Linked DNA regions of Homo sapiens. The protein of the gene in region 1 interacts with the protein of each later gene in a pairwise test. Each region holds a gene or a part of one and is shown on either strand. Other genes may lie near its edges. The genes, in order: UBXN2A and DYDC2.

Region 1 (8,833 bases):
GTGAGATACACTTCATACTCATTAGGGCGGGATAGTTATAAACACACATACACATACACACACAGAGAAAATAACAAGTGTTGGGAAGATGTAGAGAAATTAGAACACTAGTACATCGCTGGTAGGAATGTAAGATGGTGCTGCTATTTGGAAAACAATATGACTGGTCCTTGAAAAGTTAAACACAGAAATACCCTATTCCACTTCTAGGTATATACTCAAAAAAATTGAAAACGCCAGGCACGGTGGCCCACACCTGTAATCCCAGCACTTTGGGAAGCCGAGGTGGGTGGATCACCAGAGGTCAGGAGTTCAAGACCAGCCTGGTCAACATGGCGAAACCCCATCTCTACTAAAAATACAAAAATTAGCTGGGCATGGTTGGGGGGCACCTTTAATCCCAGCCAGTCAGAAAAGCTGAGGTGAGAGAATCCCTTGAACCTGGGAGGGGGAGGTTGCAGTGAGTCAAGATTGCACCAATGCACTCCAGCCTGGGTGACAGAGGGAGGCTGTCTCAAAAATAAATAAATTAAATTAATAAATAAATATTCTTGCCACAATAAAACAAAAATTTTAAAAAATTGAAAGTAAGGAGTCAATCAAATACTTGTATACCAAAGTCCATACCAGCATTATTCAAGATAGCAGAAAGGTGGAAGCAACCCAAATGGCCGTCAACATATGAATGGATAAGCAAAATGTAATATATACATACAATGGAATCTTATTCAACCATAAACGGGAATGATATACTGACACATGCTATAACATGAATGAACTTGAAAATAATTATGCTAAGTGAAATAAGCCGGACAAAAAAGAACAAATATTGTAGGAGTCCACGTATATGAGGTATCTAGAATGGGCAAATTCATAGAGACAGAAAGTAGAATAGGCTGTGCGTGGTGGCTCAGACCTGTAATCATAGCACTTTGGGAGGCCAAGGTGGGAGGATTGTTTTGAGTCCAGGAGTTTGAGACTAGCCTGGGCAACCTGGTGAAAATCCTACCTCAAAAAAAAAAAGAGAGAAAGAAAGTAGAATAGAGATTACTATGGGCTGTGGGGATGGAGAGAGACTCTGTCTCAAAGAAAAAGAAAAACATACACCTAACATCATACTCAATGGTGAGAGAGACTGAAAGCTTTTTGTCTAAAATTAGGAACAAGACAAAGAAGCCCACTCTCATCATTTTTTGAGACAGAGTCTTGCTCTGTCACCCAGGCTGGAGTGCAGTGGCGTGATCTCGGCTCACTGCAACTTCTGCCTCCTGGGTTCAAGCAATTCTCCTGCCTCAGCCTCCCGAGTAGCTGGGATTACAGGTGCCTGCCACCACGCCTGGCTAATTTTTGTATTTTTAGTACAGACGGGGTTTCACCATGTTGCCCAGGCTCGTCTCGAACTCCTGGCCTCAAGTGATTCACCTGCCTAAGCCTCCCAAAGGGCTGGGATTAAAGGCATGAGCCACCGTGCCCGGCCTCATCATTTCTTTTCTGTTTTTCTTAAGTCTAGTAATAGAGTCTCGCTATGTTGCCCCAGGTTGGTCTCAAATTCCTGGGCTCAAGCAATTCTCCTGCCTCAGCCTCCGAAAGTGCTGAGATTACAGGTGTAAGCCACCACACCCAGCCTCTTCATTTCTATTCAACATTGTACTGGAAGTTCTAGCTAGAGCAGTTAGACAATAAAAAGAAATAAAAGGCATCCACATTAGAAAGAAATAAATAAAACTATGGCCAAGTGTGGTATCTCATACCTGTAATCCCAGTGCTTTGGGAGGCCCAAGCAGGAGGATAGTTTGAGGCCAGGGGTTCGAGACCAGCCTGGGCAACACAGTGAAACTCCATCTCTACAAAAAAAATTTTTTTTTAATTGGTCGGGCATGGTGGCACACGTCTGTGGTCCTAGCTACTCAGGACACTGTGGTGGAAGGATTACTTGATCCCAGGAGTTCGATATCAACCTGGGCAATGTACGGAGACCCCATCTCTAGCAAATGATTAGAGCTAATAAGTGAATTCAGCAAAGTTGTTAGATACAAGATCAACACACAAAATCAGTGGTATTTCCAAATACTGGCAATAAAAAATCTAAAAAGGAAATAAATCAACTCCTTTTACAATAGCATCAAAAAGAATAAAATACTTTGAAATATATTTAACCAAAGAGGTACGAGACTTGTACGTGGAAAACTATAAAACACTGCTGAAAGAAATGAAAGAAGGTCTAAGTATGGTCATGTAGTGCTTAACCATGGGGGCACCTTCTGAGAAATGTGTCGTGTAAGTGAATTCGTCGTTGTGTGAACATCACAGAGTATACTTACACAAACCTGGATGGTATAGTGTACTACACATCTAGGCAATATGGCATAGCCTTGCTCCCGGGCTACAAACCTGGACAGCATGTTACTGTATTGAATACTGTAGACAATTGTAACATGATGGTATTTGTGTATCTAAACATAGAAAAGATACAGTAAAAATATGGCCTTATAATCTTATGTGACCACCATCACATATGCTGTAAGTCATGGACCGAAAGGTTGTTATGTGGCGCACGACTATAAATGCAAAAATATTCATGCTTAAGGATTTGAAGACTTTATATATAAAGTGAGTCATCGCACCAGTATTGTTAAGATATCAATACTCCGGCTGGGTGTGTTGGCTCACACCTGTAATACCGGCACTTTGGGAGGCCGAGGCGGGTGGATCATCTAAGGTCGGGAGTTCAAGACCAGCCTGACCAACATGGTGAAACCCTGTCTCTACTAAAAATACAAAAATTAGCTGGGCATGGTGGTGCATGCCTATAATCCCAGCTACTTGGGAGGCTGAGGCAGGAGAATCACTAGAACCTGGGAGGCGGAGGTTATAGTGAGCCGAGATCATGCCATTGCACTCCAGCCTGGGCAACAAGAGCAAAACTCCATCTCAAAAAAAAAATTGAAGGTATCAATACTCCTCAAATTGATCTACCAATTCAAAGCAATCCCTGTCAAAATCCCAGTGGCCCCCCCCTCCCTTTTTTTTTTTTTTTAACAGCAATGGAAAAGCTGAGCTAAAATTCATACAGAACTGCAAGCGACAAAACAATCTTGAAAAAGAGGAGCAAAGTTGGAGGACTCAAACTTCCTGATTTCTATACAGCTACTATACAGCTGTATACAGCTACTATACAGCTACAGTAATCAAAATAGTATGGTACTAGCATAAAGATAAGATACATAATCAATGGAATAGAATTGAGAGTACAGAAATAAATTTATACATCCATGGTCAATTGATTTTTGACAAGGGAAGAATCCTCTCTTCATTAAATGGTGCTGGGACCAAAAAATCGGAAGAGCTCTCACAGAATGGTCAAAGAAAAGTCTCTTTGCCTAATGGGATCAATTTAACTCCTTATTGTGCTTCAACAGACACGGTCTCATGAGCAGTGAGATTTGAACTCACCACAGGCTCCCAAAATCACTGAACAGGAGATGAGGGAGGTGGTGGTGGGGGGAACGGCATGGGCCTGTAGGTGAGGATCAATCTCAATCTGAGTCCCCGCACTAAAGACTTACAAATAAATCCCGATTTAGGCAAACCGAGACTTTATTCGGAAAGGATTATTGCAACAGGGGGGAAAAGGACTATTGCAATAAGGGTGGAGAACTATTGCAATAGGAAGAAGGACTGTTGCAATTGGGAGAATGCTGGACTATAAAATAAAAAACAAATCTGGATATACGTAAGGAGAGAGTTCAGTGGAAGAGATCCAAGAAAAGGGAAAGAAACTATTGCAACTGAGAGTGGGGATTGGGGGAGGCTACAGCAACCGGGAGAACTCTCCAACCATGAGATCTGCAGCGATCTCCTGGGTCAGGCAGAAAAGGGCTTTCCTTTTACAGAGATGAGTGAACAGGGCTAGAAAGACCCGGGTGTGGGGAAGTGGGGAGAAGACTGGAGGTGGCAGCGATGAGACTATACAGAGACTGTTTCCCTGGGGTCCGTCTATTTTCAGGCGGTGGATGAGGAGGGCTGCTCGCTGGCTGCGGCTGAGGCTCGGTCACCGTGTAGAGAGGCCCAGGGAGAGCTGCTTCACTCAAGTCCTGTCAAGTCAAGGCAGCCGGGATTTGTCCACATCGTGAGTACAGGCAGGTCAGCTAACTATTTGCGAGGCGAAGAACTGGAATTTAGAGGGTCTGGGCCTGACCTTGTCACAGCTAACGACGGGGGCATCCTTGAGTCCTGACAAAGTCACATGCGGAAGGGCGGTTGCGTGTAGTAAGTCCTTTTAGGAACACAAAGGGGCCGGGCGCGGTGGCTCACGCCTGTAATCCCAGCACATTGGGAGACCAAGGCGGGCGGATCACCTGAGGTCAGGAGTTCAAGACCAGCCTGGCCAACATGGTGAAACCCCGTCTCTACTAAAAATACAAAAATTAGCCGGGCGTGCTGGCAGGCGCCTGTAATCCCAGCTACTCCGGAGGCTGAGGCAGGAGAATCGCTCGAATCCGGGAGGCGGAGGTTGCGGTGAGCCAAGATCGCGCCATTGTATTCCAACCTGGGGGACAAGAGCGAGATTTAGTCTCAAAAAAAAAAAAAAAAAAAGGTGGGTGGGGGTTTCTTCAACTTCGTTGTCCACAGGGCTCAGGTCAAGTTCAACATTGTCAGAATGCAGGGATGTCTCTCCATGGTTTCTGAGGCTGAGGAGGTACCCAGGTAAGCACACTCTGGGTTCTCTGGTGAGCACACACCGAGCTGCCTGCATCTCCCCTACCCATGAAGGCAGCTAGCCGCCGGGCCAGTGGTGGGAAGGGGAGGCGGCCATTAGCGCCGTTCCCGCCGGGACTTGAAGCGCCCGGCCGCGGCAAGCCCCGCCCTCGGCGCGCCCCCGCGTCCGCGCGCGCTCCTCGGGTCTGCGCGGAGCCGGCGTCGGCGCGCGCTTGGGCGCCTGGCGAAGACCGAGAGAGGCTGGCGGGATCTCAGCGGCGCGGCCGCGGAACCTGAGGCGGTCTGGGGCGGCGGCGCTCCGGCTCTGAAGGGCTCCAGCCAAACGGAGCCCGCGGCCAAACGGTGCCTGCGGTGCCTGAGCTGAGTGAGGCCGAGGCCGGGAGGCCGTGCCCGGAGGTGAGCGTCCCGGGGCCGCGCCGCGTCCGGCGGGGTGAGGGCGGGGCGGGGCGGTCGCCTGCCGGCTGGGGCCGAGGGGTCGCGGCCTGTGGCTTGGCCGCCGCGGATCGTCGGTGTCGGGGGGAGTCTCGCTCCGGAGGGCCGCGTGTTTGCGACTCGGGAAGGGGCGCCGGCGGCGGAGCCCGAGCCAGGGTCCCGCCCAGCCCAGGTGAGCGGCGACCCCGAGCCCCTGACTCGCCTGCGGCTTGACTTGCGAGCTAGCTGAAGGCACAGCTCCTGGTTCTCTCGCAGGGCGTTCCGAAACTTACAGTTATGCGCAACACAATGTTTCTATTTTCAAAGGCGAACGCTGCACGATCGCAGTCCAGTGATACAAAGTATGCCTATTAGTGACTTCACCCGACTCCCACCACTCACTTTCTCTGATGTTTTGAAGGCCTGGTGTTCGCTGATTTCACGTTTCCTTAATTTCTTCTTTGTGCCTTTTTTTTTTCCTTTTCGCTGCCAGTAATAAAAGAGTTTATTACTTGTCAGCAATGATGAATGTTCGTGTGGCATCCAGCGTTGAGTTCCTATGTACGTAATTTGAGATAAGTAAAGATAGGAAACTGCTGATTTGTTTTGATGCGAATGCAGAAAATAATGTGGTAGTATGAAGTCTGGCCGGTTGCAGTTTGTTTTTAGGGGGGAAACTTTAAAAGTTCATGTTGTGTCTTCTTTCTAAATATGCTGAAAGTCGGATTTATTTAAAAGGCAATTAAATTCAGTGAATACAGAGTATCTTTTTATAACACTAATGTTAGTGCTAGGCACTGGCGGAGTCCAAAAATGTGTAAAAAATGTGTGCAGGAGGGAGTGGTTAAGCACACTAATGATATGAGGCTGACTGCAGTCCAGTGTTAATGGAAGCTCACACTTACTGAGCAGTTGTTTTCAGCTGGGCACTGTGGAGGGTACTTTACTTGCATTTTAATTTAATAATGTATAATAATTAGCATACACTTGATTTAATTTTTTTCATTCAAAAAAATTTTAGTACCTACTGTGTACTGAATGCTAAGGATACAATAGTGACAATTACAGACTCTGCCTTTAGACTCTACAGTGTCATTGGGCAAAACAGATATTAAGCAAATAATCAGGGCCCGGAGCGATGGCTCACGCCTGTAATCCCAGCACTTTGAAAGGCTGAGGTGGGCAGATCACCTGAGGTCAGCAGTTCTAGACCAGCCTGGCTAACATGGTGAAACCCCGTCTCTCTCTACTAAAAATACAGAAATTAGCTGGGCGTGATGGGGGGCGTCTGTAATCCCAGCTACTCAGAAAAACTGAGGCAGGAGAATAGCTTGAGCCGGCGAGAGGTAGAGGTTGCAGTGAGCCAAGATGGTGCCACTGCACTCCAGCCTGGGTGACAGAGCGGGACTCCATCTCAAAAAGTAAAATAAAATAAATAATCACACAAATAAATGCCAATAAGCAAAGACAGAGGCTAAAATAAAGAATGTAAGTTGTTTGTGAGAGAAGGTAACAGGGGGACTTATCCAAGCTGGGAAAGTTTTCCTAGGAAAGTAATCTTTGAGCTTAGATATTAGGGATAAATAGGAATTAGGGGAAGATGACTCCCAAAGGAGAGAAGAAAGGCTCAGGCAAAGGAAATAGATGGCGCGGAGGCTAGGGAAGATGGTCATTTCAGGAACTTCAGCAGTTGTTGTGTGGAAAGCAAAAGGGTGCTGTGATAAAGTAGGTTAGGGCCAAAGAGATGATGCAGGGCTTTTTTTTTTTTTTTTTTTTTTGTTACAGAGTCTCGCTCTGTCACCCAGGCTGGAGTGCAGCGGCACGATCTTGGCTCACTGCAATCTCTTCCGGATTCAAGCGATTCTCCTGCCTCAGCCTCCCGAGTAGCTGGGACTATAATGCGCGCCACCATGCCCGGCTAATTTTTGTATTTTTAGTAGAGATGGAGTTTCACTGTGTTGGTCAGACTGGTCTCAAAATCCTGACCTCTGGTGATCCACCCACCTCGGCCTCCCAGAGTGCTGGGATTACAGACGTGAGCCACCGTGCCCGGCTGATGCAGGGCCTTTTAAGCAATGTTAAGGATTTGGGACCAGCTTTTTCTGTTTCTTTTTCTTTTTTAAACTTTTATAGAAAACTTTTCAAACCACTCAAATGTAGGGAGAGAACAGTACAATGAACTCTCCCGTAATATTACCCAAATGACTTGGATGTTATTTTAACAGTAATAGGAAGTCGTTTAAAGGTTTACCTCCGTCAGAAAAAAAAAAAGTTTAAAGCAAGGTAAGTCTTACTACAAACAACTTTTTTTTTTTTTTGAGACGGAGTCTCGCACAGGCAGGAGTGCTGTGGTGCAATCTCCGCTCACTGCAACCTCTGCCTCCCGGGTTCAAACGATTCTCCTGCCTCAGCCTCCCGAGTAGCTGGGATTACAGGCATGCGCCACCATGCCTGGCTAGTTTTTTGTATTTTTGGTAGAGACGGGGTTTCACTGTGTTGGCCAGGCTGGTCTCGAACTCCAGACCTTCTGATCTGCCCACTTCAGCCTCCCAAAGTGCTGGAATTACAGGCGTGAGCCACCGTGCCTGGCCAACTTTTTATTTCAAAAAGTCGTCCTGACTGCTGTGTAGAAACTGGATTGGATGGGGACAAGAATGGAAATGAGGAGACCACCTAGAGTTGATGGTGGTTGGGACTAGAATTGTGGCAATGAAGGCATTGAAAATTTAAGAGTACCTAACTGATCTCTTCTCATGTTAATAATTTTATATTCACACCTATTGGAGGAATCATGGAAGGTTTTCTAAAGGAGATTGTATGTATGTATGTTTTTATTTATTTGAGATAGAGTTTTGTTCTTGCCACCCAGGTTGGAGTGCAATGACCCAATCTTGGCTCATGGCAACTTCTGCCTCCTGGGTTCAAGCAATTCTCCTGCCTCAGCCTCCCAAGTAGTTGGGATTACAGGTATGCACCACCACACCCAGCTAATTTTGTATTTTTAGTAGAGAGAGACAGGGTTTCACCATGTCGGTCAGGCTGGTCTCGAACTCCTGACCTCAGGTAATCTGCCCGTCTTGGCCTCCCAAAGTGCTGGGATTACAGGCTTAAACCACCGTGCCCAGCTAAAGGAGATTATATTTAAAATGAGCTTTGCATTTCCGTCCAGACCAGAACCCAAGATGGCTGCACTCTTGCTGAGACATGTTGGAGTGGTCATTGCCTCCGAGCGCACTTTAGCCCTCAGCTTTGTATCAGAAATGCTGTTCCTTTGGGAATCATGGCCAAAGAAGAGATGGAATGGTTCTGGAATAAGAACACAGGTTCAAACCGTCCCGTATCTCCCCACGTCACTATCTAGAGTTGGTGTCTTCCTATGTCGATGTCCATCTGCCACCATGGCTCTGGTATTGCTTTGAGCACAGGGGTCTCTTTTTGGCATGTCAGCCCTGTTACTCCCAGGAAAGTTTAAGTCTTACTTGGAACTCATTGGTCCCTGTGTCTGGGGCCAGCACTGATGGACACAACTAAGTTTGCACTCGTCTTCCCTCTCATGTATCATACCTGGAATGGGATCCAACACTTGATGTGGGACCTAGGAAAAGGCCTGAAGATTCCCCAGCTATACCAGTCTGGAGTGGTTGTCCTGGTTCTTACTGTGTTATTTGTAGGGCTGGCAGCTGTGTGAAGAACTGAGGTGACC
Region 2 (8,285 bases), on another chromosome or scaffold:
CAGGAGCCCAAATGGCTTCACCTAGTGGATCCCGCATCAGGGCTGCAGGCGGAGCTGCCTGCCAGTCCCACGTAGTGTGCCCGCACTCCTCAGCCCTTGGGCGGTCGATGGGACCGGGCACCGCGGAGCAGTGGGTGGCGCTCATCAGGGAGGCTCCGACAGCACAGGAGCCCACGGTGCGGGGGAGGCTCGGGCATGGCGGGCTGCATGTCCGGAGCCCCGTGGGGAGGCAGTAGAGGCCCGGCAAGAATTCGAGCAAAGTGCTGGCAGGCCGGCACTGCTGGGGGACCCAGCACACCCTCTGCAGCTGCTGGCCCAGTGCTAAGCTCCTCACTGCCTGGGGCCTGCAGTGCTGGCCGGCTGATCCGAGTGCGGGGCCCACCAAGCCCGCGCCCACCCGGAACTTGCGCTGGCCTGCGAGTGCCACACGCGGCCCCATTTCCCGCCCGCGCCTCTCCCTCCACACCTCCCTGCAAGCAGAGCCGGCTCCGGCCTTGGCCAGCCCAGAGGGGCTCCCACAGTGCAGCGGCGGGCTGAAGGGCTCCTCAAGCATGGCCAGAGTGGGCACCAAGGCCGAGGAGGTGCCAAGAGCAAGAGAGGGCTGCCAGCACGCTGTCACCTCTCACCCAGGTGATGGAATGCTGCTGGTCATCTGTCGTCAGACTAGCTTTGAGTAAGAGGGGTGTAGAAGTTTGTTTATCCAAATGCATTGGTTCAAGTGGGCCACACAGATTGGCAGGAGACACCACCCACCTCTGTCCCCACCCTCCATCACTACCCCACTCAATTTTTTTTTAATTCCCTTACAGGTCTTGGGGTCAGAAGTCCAAAATGAATCTTATAGAGCTAAAACCAAAGTGTCAGCAGGGCAGGTTCCTCAGGAGGCTCTGGGGAGAATCCATTTTCTTGTCTTTTCCAGCTTCTAGAGGATACCCTTGGCTCAAGGCCCTGAATCACATCGCTTTTTCTCCCTTGGCTCTGTCATCACCTTCCCTGTCTGACCGTACTGTGTCCCTCTTATAGTGACACCTGTGATTACATTGTTCCTACTCAGATAATCCAGGATAATCCCCCTATCTCAAGATCCTTAATTTAATCACAGTTACAAAGTCTCTTTTGCCATTTAAGGTGACATATTCATAGTTTCCAGGTATTCAGACATAGACACATTTGGGAGCCATTATTCAGCCCTAGAACAAGGACATTCTCTTACTCATATTTCCATTATTCAAAATTAAGAAATTTAACTTGGATAAATTATGTCACATAATCTACATTTCACATTCAGTTCAACCAATTTTCCCAACAATGCCCTTTATAGAATTCTTTCTTCTTCTTTTCTTTCTTTCTTTTTTTTTTTTTTTAGACAGGGTCTCGCTCTGTCACCCAGGTTGGAGTGCAGTGGTGAGATCTCAACGCATTGCAGCCACAACCTCCTGGGCTCAAGTGATCCTCCCACCTCAGCCCTGCCCCCAACCCCTCCAAGTAGCTGGGACTGCAGGTGTGTGCCATCACACCTGGCTAATTTTTGTATTTTTTGTGGAGACAGGGTTTTGCCTTGTTGCCCAGGCTGGTATCAAACCCCTGAGCTCAAGTGATCCTCCTGCCTCAGCCTCCCAAAGTGCTGGATTTATAGGCGTGCACCACCATGCCCAGCTGAATTATTTTTTCTTGTCCAGGCCCAATCTAGGATCATGTGTTACATGTAGTTATTATGGCTGTTCAATCTCCTTTGATCTATAACAGTTACTCTTTTTTTTTTCATACCCTCAACATTTTTAAGAGTACAGGGTAGTTGCTTTGGATTTATTTGATGTTTCTTCAATTACATTCAAATATTGCATTTTAGGCAGGAATCCACGGAAATGTTTTATGTACCATAAGAAGTGCATCACATCAGGAGGCAGTTGATGTCACTTTGTTCCTTTGTTGGTGATGTTTACTTTGATTACTTGGTTAAGGTTTTGTTGGCCAGGTTTTGCCACTGTAAAATTTCTGTATTTCCTTTGGAATTAATACTTAATTTGTGAGAAGAAACTTTGAGACTATGCATATATCTTATTCCTTGTCAAATGATCACCCAGGTTTAGCACTCATTGACTCATTGATGATCCTGCTTTGATTCAGTTATACTATGGTGGTGAGGAAATGGCAGTTTTTTAAAACTCCATTATTTTCCCCACATTTATTAGTTGGCATTCTACTTTAACAAAGAACTTTGCCTTCTCCCTTCTTAATCTACTTATATATTCTCATATGGACTCATGGATTCTTATTTTATTCTGTAAGTTATAATCCATTACAGTCACTATTTTAATGGTCAAACTGCCCCAGATTTGACTAGTAGGAGCCCCTTCAAGCTGGCTTCTCTGTCCCCAACGATTGTATTTTTTAGAATTTTCTTACTTTCTGGCACAACAAAATGTTCCAGGCTCGTTAGGCTTGTCCTGCCCCAGCCTTGGAATCAGCCATTTCTCCAAGGAGCCCTGATTCCTCTTAAGTGATGAAGGCTATTTACAAGCAAGGTTTATATGCTTAGCGTGCTCATTGCTACTGAAGTGTTTTGGTTTCAAGGCCCTTGCAGTGGAGAGAGCTAGGAAATATTTTTTCCTATGTCCATAAGATAGATATGTATAAGATAGATATGGATATCTGTCTACTTGTTTTTCCTTCCTTAAGCTAAAATATGAGAAGTAGGGGGACAAATTGAAAAATGCCTCCAGAAAATGTTAAGGCTAGATCTGAGCTTTTATTATTTGCTGGGCTCTTTTGGAATTAAAATGTGTCAACTTCAGGAATATGGACTCCGTCAGGAGGAGGCCAGGTCCTAGGTTGTTTCATGGCACAATCCTCCACTGAATATAACAGCAAGTAAGTGTTTGTTGGTTCTTTTGGGAAAGGTGTGATCCAGAAGCATCTCATATTTATCCTGAAATAAATCTGAATTGGTTAGAATGTGTCTATTTTTAATATCAGATTAAGTTTGTAAAATAGTGTGACTTTGTTTTGATGTTTTCCAGGCTGCCAGGATGGAAACTAACTACCTGAAGAGGTGCTTTGGAAATTGCCTGGCCCAGGCACTGGCAGAGGTGGCGAAGGTTCGGCCCAGTGACCCAATAGAATACCTGGCTCACTGGCTTTATCATTACAGGAAAACAGCAAAAGCAAAAGAAGAGGTGTGTATGTGCACTGGGACTTAGGGAGGGCCCAGCTTTCCCAGAGTAATTTGAAAGCCAAGACACAAGGCAGGATTCTGGAGCTGGCCTGGGGAATTTCTTGGTTTATTTGACTTGCTCTTAGAGCCAGATATCCCTGAAGCATGGGGATCCTGGGGGCTAACTCAGAGGAGTGGAGCTTCAACTCAGACGAGCTGTGGAGTTGAAGGGTTTGTAACTACTAGCAGGCTAAAGCTAGTTACAAGAGGAAACTCAACAGGCCCAAAGAGCCCACAGCCCATATCAGTCCCCAGTGAGGGGGCCCCGTTTATAAGGCTTCCCTGGTTGCTGACCTGATTTGACTCTGTCACCTCACCCCAGAATAGGGAAAAGAAGATCCACCTGCAGGAGGAATATGACAGTAGCCTCAAGGAAATGGAAATGACAGAAATGCTGAAACAGGAAGAGTATCAGATTCAACAGAACTGTGAAAAGTGTCACAAGGTAGGGAGAAGGACTCAGCTTTGGGTTGCCACACACATCCCAGTGATGGACTCCAGGAAAGCCACAAGTCAGCCCAGTCCCAATCCAAGGCACATTAAGGGTCCCTTTAGCTTGATTTTCAATATATGTGCAAGTATTCACATATTTGCATATAAACCAATGTTATTGACAATCTTTGTTAATGAAAAAAGGAGATGTTAAAAGACAAATTTGTCTTAGATTTTAGGAAATACTCTGGTGTTACTGGTTTTAAAAAAAATCTGTTTTTTTTTTTTTTTTTTTTTTTTTTGAGATGGAGTCTCGCTCTGTTGCCCAGGCTGGAGCACAGTGGAGCGATCTCGTCTCACTACAGCCTCTGCCTCCTGGGTTCAAGTGATTCTCCTGTCTCAGCCTCCCGAGTATCTGGGACTACAGGCACATGCCACCACGCCCGGCTAATTTTTTTTTTTTTTTTTTAGTAGAGACAGGGTTTTACCATGTTAACCAGGATGGTCTTGATCTCCTGACCTCATGATCTGCCCACCTCGGCCTCCCAAAGTGCTGGGATTACAGGCGTGAGCCACCACGCCCAGCCAAAAAATCTGATTTTTAAAAAATCTATTCACTTGGAACAAATATTTTTTCATATAAGATCCTTTGAGCCCTTTTCAAGTAGTATTCAGTATTTTTCAGAAACCAAATATGATTGTTATCAGTGCATACTTCAGATATTTAACTTAGTATTTAGTATTTGGTTTATTATATTCTATTTACTTTTCTGTGAAACTTCAGATGCCTCCTCTGTGATGTTATAATATTAGATGTAAGTTATTAAGCTGGAATAGCCGAAGACAACTCTGCATTCGTCAGTCTGACAAGCCTATCTTTTACCTCCCACAGTTTTTTTCACAATCTCCTGAAAAACGCCTTATGCTATTCTATGCTTTCTACAAAGTGGTAGATACCTGGATAGAGAGTCGTCTCAATTGCAATGTTGGGTTTGATATATGACATCTTTTTAGCTATGACTATACTCTGTGCATTAAAGTCTTTAATGCAGTCCATTACAATTCACCAGCATTTGTTAGCTTCCAAGCCAATTTGAAGACATGAAAATATTAAGCTTATTTACATTTATACTAATATACTCAATGTCCTCATAAAGAATAGATTTGCTTTTTTAAGCCTGGATGTCTTGTAAATAAATTAAATCAAAAGATAGTTTCATTCTATTGTTTGACAATAGTCTAAAGGAACTCTCCCTCAGGAAGAATTCCTTCTTTAAGCAATTGTTTGGAGATGGGAGAGGTGAGGATCATTCAGCAAAATTTGTCATCACCTTGCTGTGCACCTCTAATCCATTTCTAACACCATGCTTTACTGTTAATAGAAATAGAAATATATAAGGCAATAAGAAATATATAAAGAAGACTCCCAAAACTTCACCCTAGTTTTATGGTAGCTTTATTAAGGAAAATTTCTCGGTTCACATCAATATTTTGAATTGTCTTTTTGTGTTTCACTGAGGTTTTGCATCCTGCAGCAATATTTTTTAACAAGATTTAGATAAGTAAATGGTATGTCATTCTTTTGCCAAGTGTGTGATGTAGGCAGTTGTAAGGGAAGATGGGAAATGACAACAAGCACAATGTCTAGACTATGTGCAAGTTCTCAGTTTTAGAAAAGAGTTCATGTGTAGGTTATGATTATGGAAATTGATTCCCTATGTTAGAAGGAAATAAAGAGAACCCAAGAGTGATCTAAAATGAAGCAAATTTATAGTTTACCTGGCAAGAGAGAGCCACAACATTAAGATGTGAGTTACTCTCCAAGCAAACTTTGACAAGGCTAAATAAAGGACAAAGAGGCACAGGTGTATCAAAAAGACAAGATTCCAAGTTCTGGTTTCTGATTGATTCAAGGTGGATTACAAATTGCTCCTTGCTATTGGTCACCTTCACCTTTTGTGTGACTAGTGCTGGGAAAACCAATTTCAAACTGGCCCAGGATGGGTTGCATGAAATTTCAGCAGGGCTGCTAGTTTACCTGATGAACTGATATGCATATACTCAAAGCTTTGCAGTTTTTTCCTTGATCGCTTTAAAAAAAAACAAAAAAACATCATGACTTGGATACAGGTTAGCAAGTCTTTAAGTATCCCAGATTGAATAGTGCTTATCTAGTGGATGTATCAAAAGAGGAACAGAAACAGAATGCTATGTATGGTAGGGATCATACCCAATTATCTGAACCAAAAAGTATCCATAGAGGAGGTAGAATTTAAGTCAGGCAGAGGTTATCCTTGGTATTGATGTCTCTTCATTAAGCAGATGCAGCTTTAAGTAAACCATAATTTTGTTTCTGAGTCAGAAGAAAACTATTGTTTATAAAGATCTAAACTATACAAATGTTTTAGAAATGTATTTTTATAGAATGAATAGATATTTGCTGCATAGACTCAATAGTTTGAAGTGTAGAAGGGTCTCAGAGACCATGTGGACAAGGATGAACTCCACGGGGCTCATTGTAGAATGGACCTGTACAACTTCCAGGCAAAGATTGAAGTGGAGGGGATCAGTAGAGCCTAAGCTCCAAGGATTCCTACCTCAGCCAGGGACATGGATGTTAGACTGCTCAATATTGTCTCATAGGTCACTGAAGCTTGTTTGTTTTTTTCCTGTGTGGTTCAGTTTGGATAATTTCTACTGATAAACCTTCATGTTTACTGACCATTTCTTCTGCAATGCCCTATATCCTATCTGGGGATTCTGTGGATTTTTTCACTTCAGATATTGTACTTTTCATTTATAGAATTTCTATTTAGTTTTTTAAATATAATTCTCATTTTCTCTGCTGATACATCTTAACTCTTACATTATGTCCATTTTCTACCTTGGATTTTTGAAAATATTTATAATAGCTGTCCTTGTCTGTTAATTCCACCATCTTTGTCATTTTGGGACCTTTTTCTTTCTCTTTTTTTTTTTTTTTTTTTTTTGAGACGGAGTCTCACTTTGTCACCCAAGCTGGAGTGCAGTGGCAAGATCTTGGCTCACTGCAACCTCTGCCTCCCCGGTTCAAGTGATTCTCCTGCCTCAGCCTCCCAAGTAGCTGGGATTACAGGCGCCCGCCACCACACCCAGCTAATTTTTTTATTTTTAGTAGAGACGGGGTTTCAGCATGTTGGCCAGGCTGGTCTCAAACTCCTGACCTCATGACCCACCCACCTCGGCCTCCCAAAGTGCTGGGATTACAGGCATAAGCCACCACGCCCAGCCCATTCTGGGGCCTTTTTCTGTTGAATACTTTTCCTCTAGATTATGGTTCACATTTTCCTACTTTTTTACTTCTGGTAATTATTACTTGTGTTCTGGACATTGTAGAGGACGTTTTATAGGGAGTCTAGATTGTGTTGTTTTCCATGAAAAGATGATGGGTTTTGTTCTGGCAGGCAGTTAAATTATTGGTGAATCAACTTGATCCTATAGGTTTGGTTTTATGCTTTGTTAAAGCAGGGCTATTTCAGTTTGGTTCTTAGTCTCTGGCATGAAAATAGCAATACTGTGTTTTTGCCATACATCTTGTGTGCTTTAGTCTCTAATAATAAGTTTTCGGCTTTTTTGTTTTCTATTTAGGAACTGACTTCTGAAACTGTTTCCACGAAGAAGACCATATTCATGCAGGAGGACACAAACCCCCTTGAGAAGGAGGCCTTGAAGCAGGAATTCCTGCCAGGTACTTCCAGTCTGATTCCAGGAATGCCTCAACAGGTTCCTCCTTCAGAGTCTGCTGGCCAGATTGACCAGAACTTCAAAATGCCACAAGAAATAAATTACAAGGAGGCTTTTCAGCATGAAGTTGCTCATGAAATGCCTCCTGGCTCCAAATCTCCTTTTTAGGTTACAGAAGGTAGATGCTTCTGATTTACTTCTCTCAAAGCTAGAAGCCAAGAAAATGGCCAGCTAGAACCAAGATTTAAGGGGCTGTAAAAGGCAAGTTCAGGGACTCTCCAGCCTACTCCTTTTCTGAAAAACCCTTAATCATGTGAACATTTGAACTAGTTATAGGATAAAATAAACTCAGAATAAGGATTTAAAATAAGTAACCAAGTGGCTGTGACTTTTTCCTCTTGTTTTATCAACGTTTTGGAGACTACACAATGAAAACACATCTGTTGGGGTGATCAGACCCAACACCCGGCCATGGGGGCTACAAAGTCCAGCCGAGTCAAAGGAAAGAGAAAAGACAAGTCAAGAGAGAAAGTGGGACCAGGGGGCCAATGCTAGTATGGAGGCTGTGAAGTCCCCAAGCTCTGGAAGCCCACACTATTTGTTGGTGATCAAACAAAGAAACAGGTGATGAGGATGTGGGAGTTGAAAGAAAGTGGTGTATCAAGCGAATGAACTACAGCTGTGAGGGTTTAGCATTTTCTTTGAAACATATGGCTACTTGAGATAATGGGAGTGCTAGAAGCAAGGAGCCAGCAAGTCTGGACACATTACAAAGGCCACAAGGGGTTTTATCCTGGACCCCGGACATGTTCCAAGCCCTGCCTCAACTTTTCTCCCAACACTAAGCTTTCCTCCCAACACACATCCATCTCGTGTGTTCATGTCTTAACTTTTGCTTCACTTCACAGTCAGGCCT

What was found.
Region 2: the proteins of UBXN2A (region 1) and DYDC2 interact in binary tests that used the Homo sapiens proteins (3 or more experiments, as listed by UniProt).

The regions. Positions count from the first base shown.
Region 1 is NC_000002.12:23,935,534-23,944,366, forward strand, and holds the start of UBXN2A (UBX domain-containing protein 2A), read left to right. Parts: upstream 1-4,929; 5' UTR 4,930-5,115; intron 5,116-5,151; exon of another isoform or gene 5,152-5,323; intron 5,324-8,833. UniProt on the Homo sapiens protein: Acts to repress the ubiquitination and subsequent endoplasmic reticulum-associated degradation of CHRNA3 by the STUB1-VCP-UBXN2A complex in cortical neurons.
Region 2 is NC_000010.11:80,359,415-80,367,699, forward strand, and holds part of DYDC2 (DPY30 domain-containing protein 2), read left to right. Parts: intron 1-3,020; coding exon of another isoform or gene 3,021-3,029; coding exon 3,030-3,176; intron 3,177-3,536; coding exon 3,537-3,659; intron 3,660-7,273; coding exon 7,274-7,537; coding exon of another isoform or gene 7,538-7,551; 3' UTR 7,552-8,285.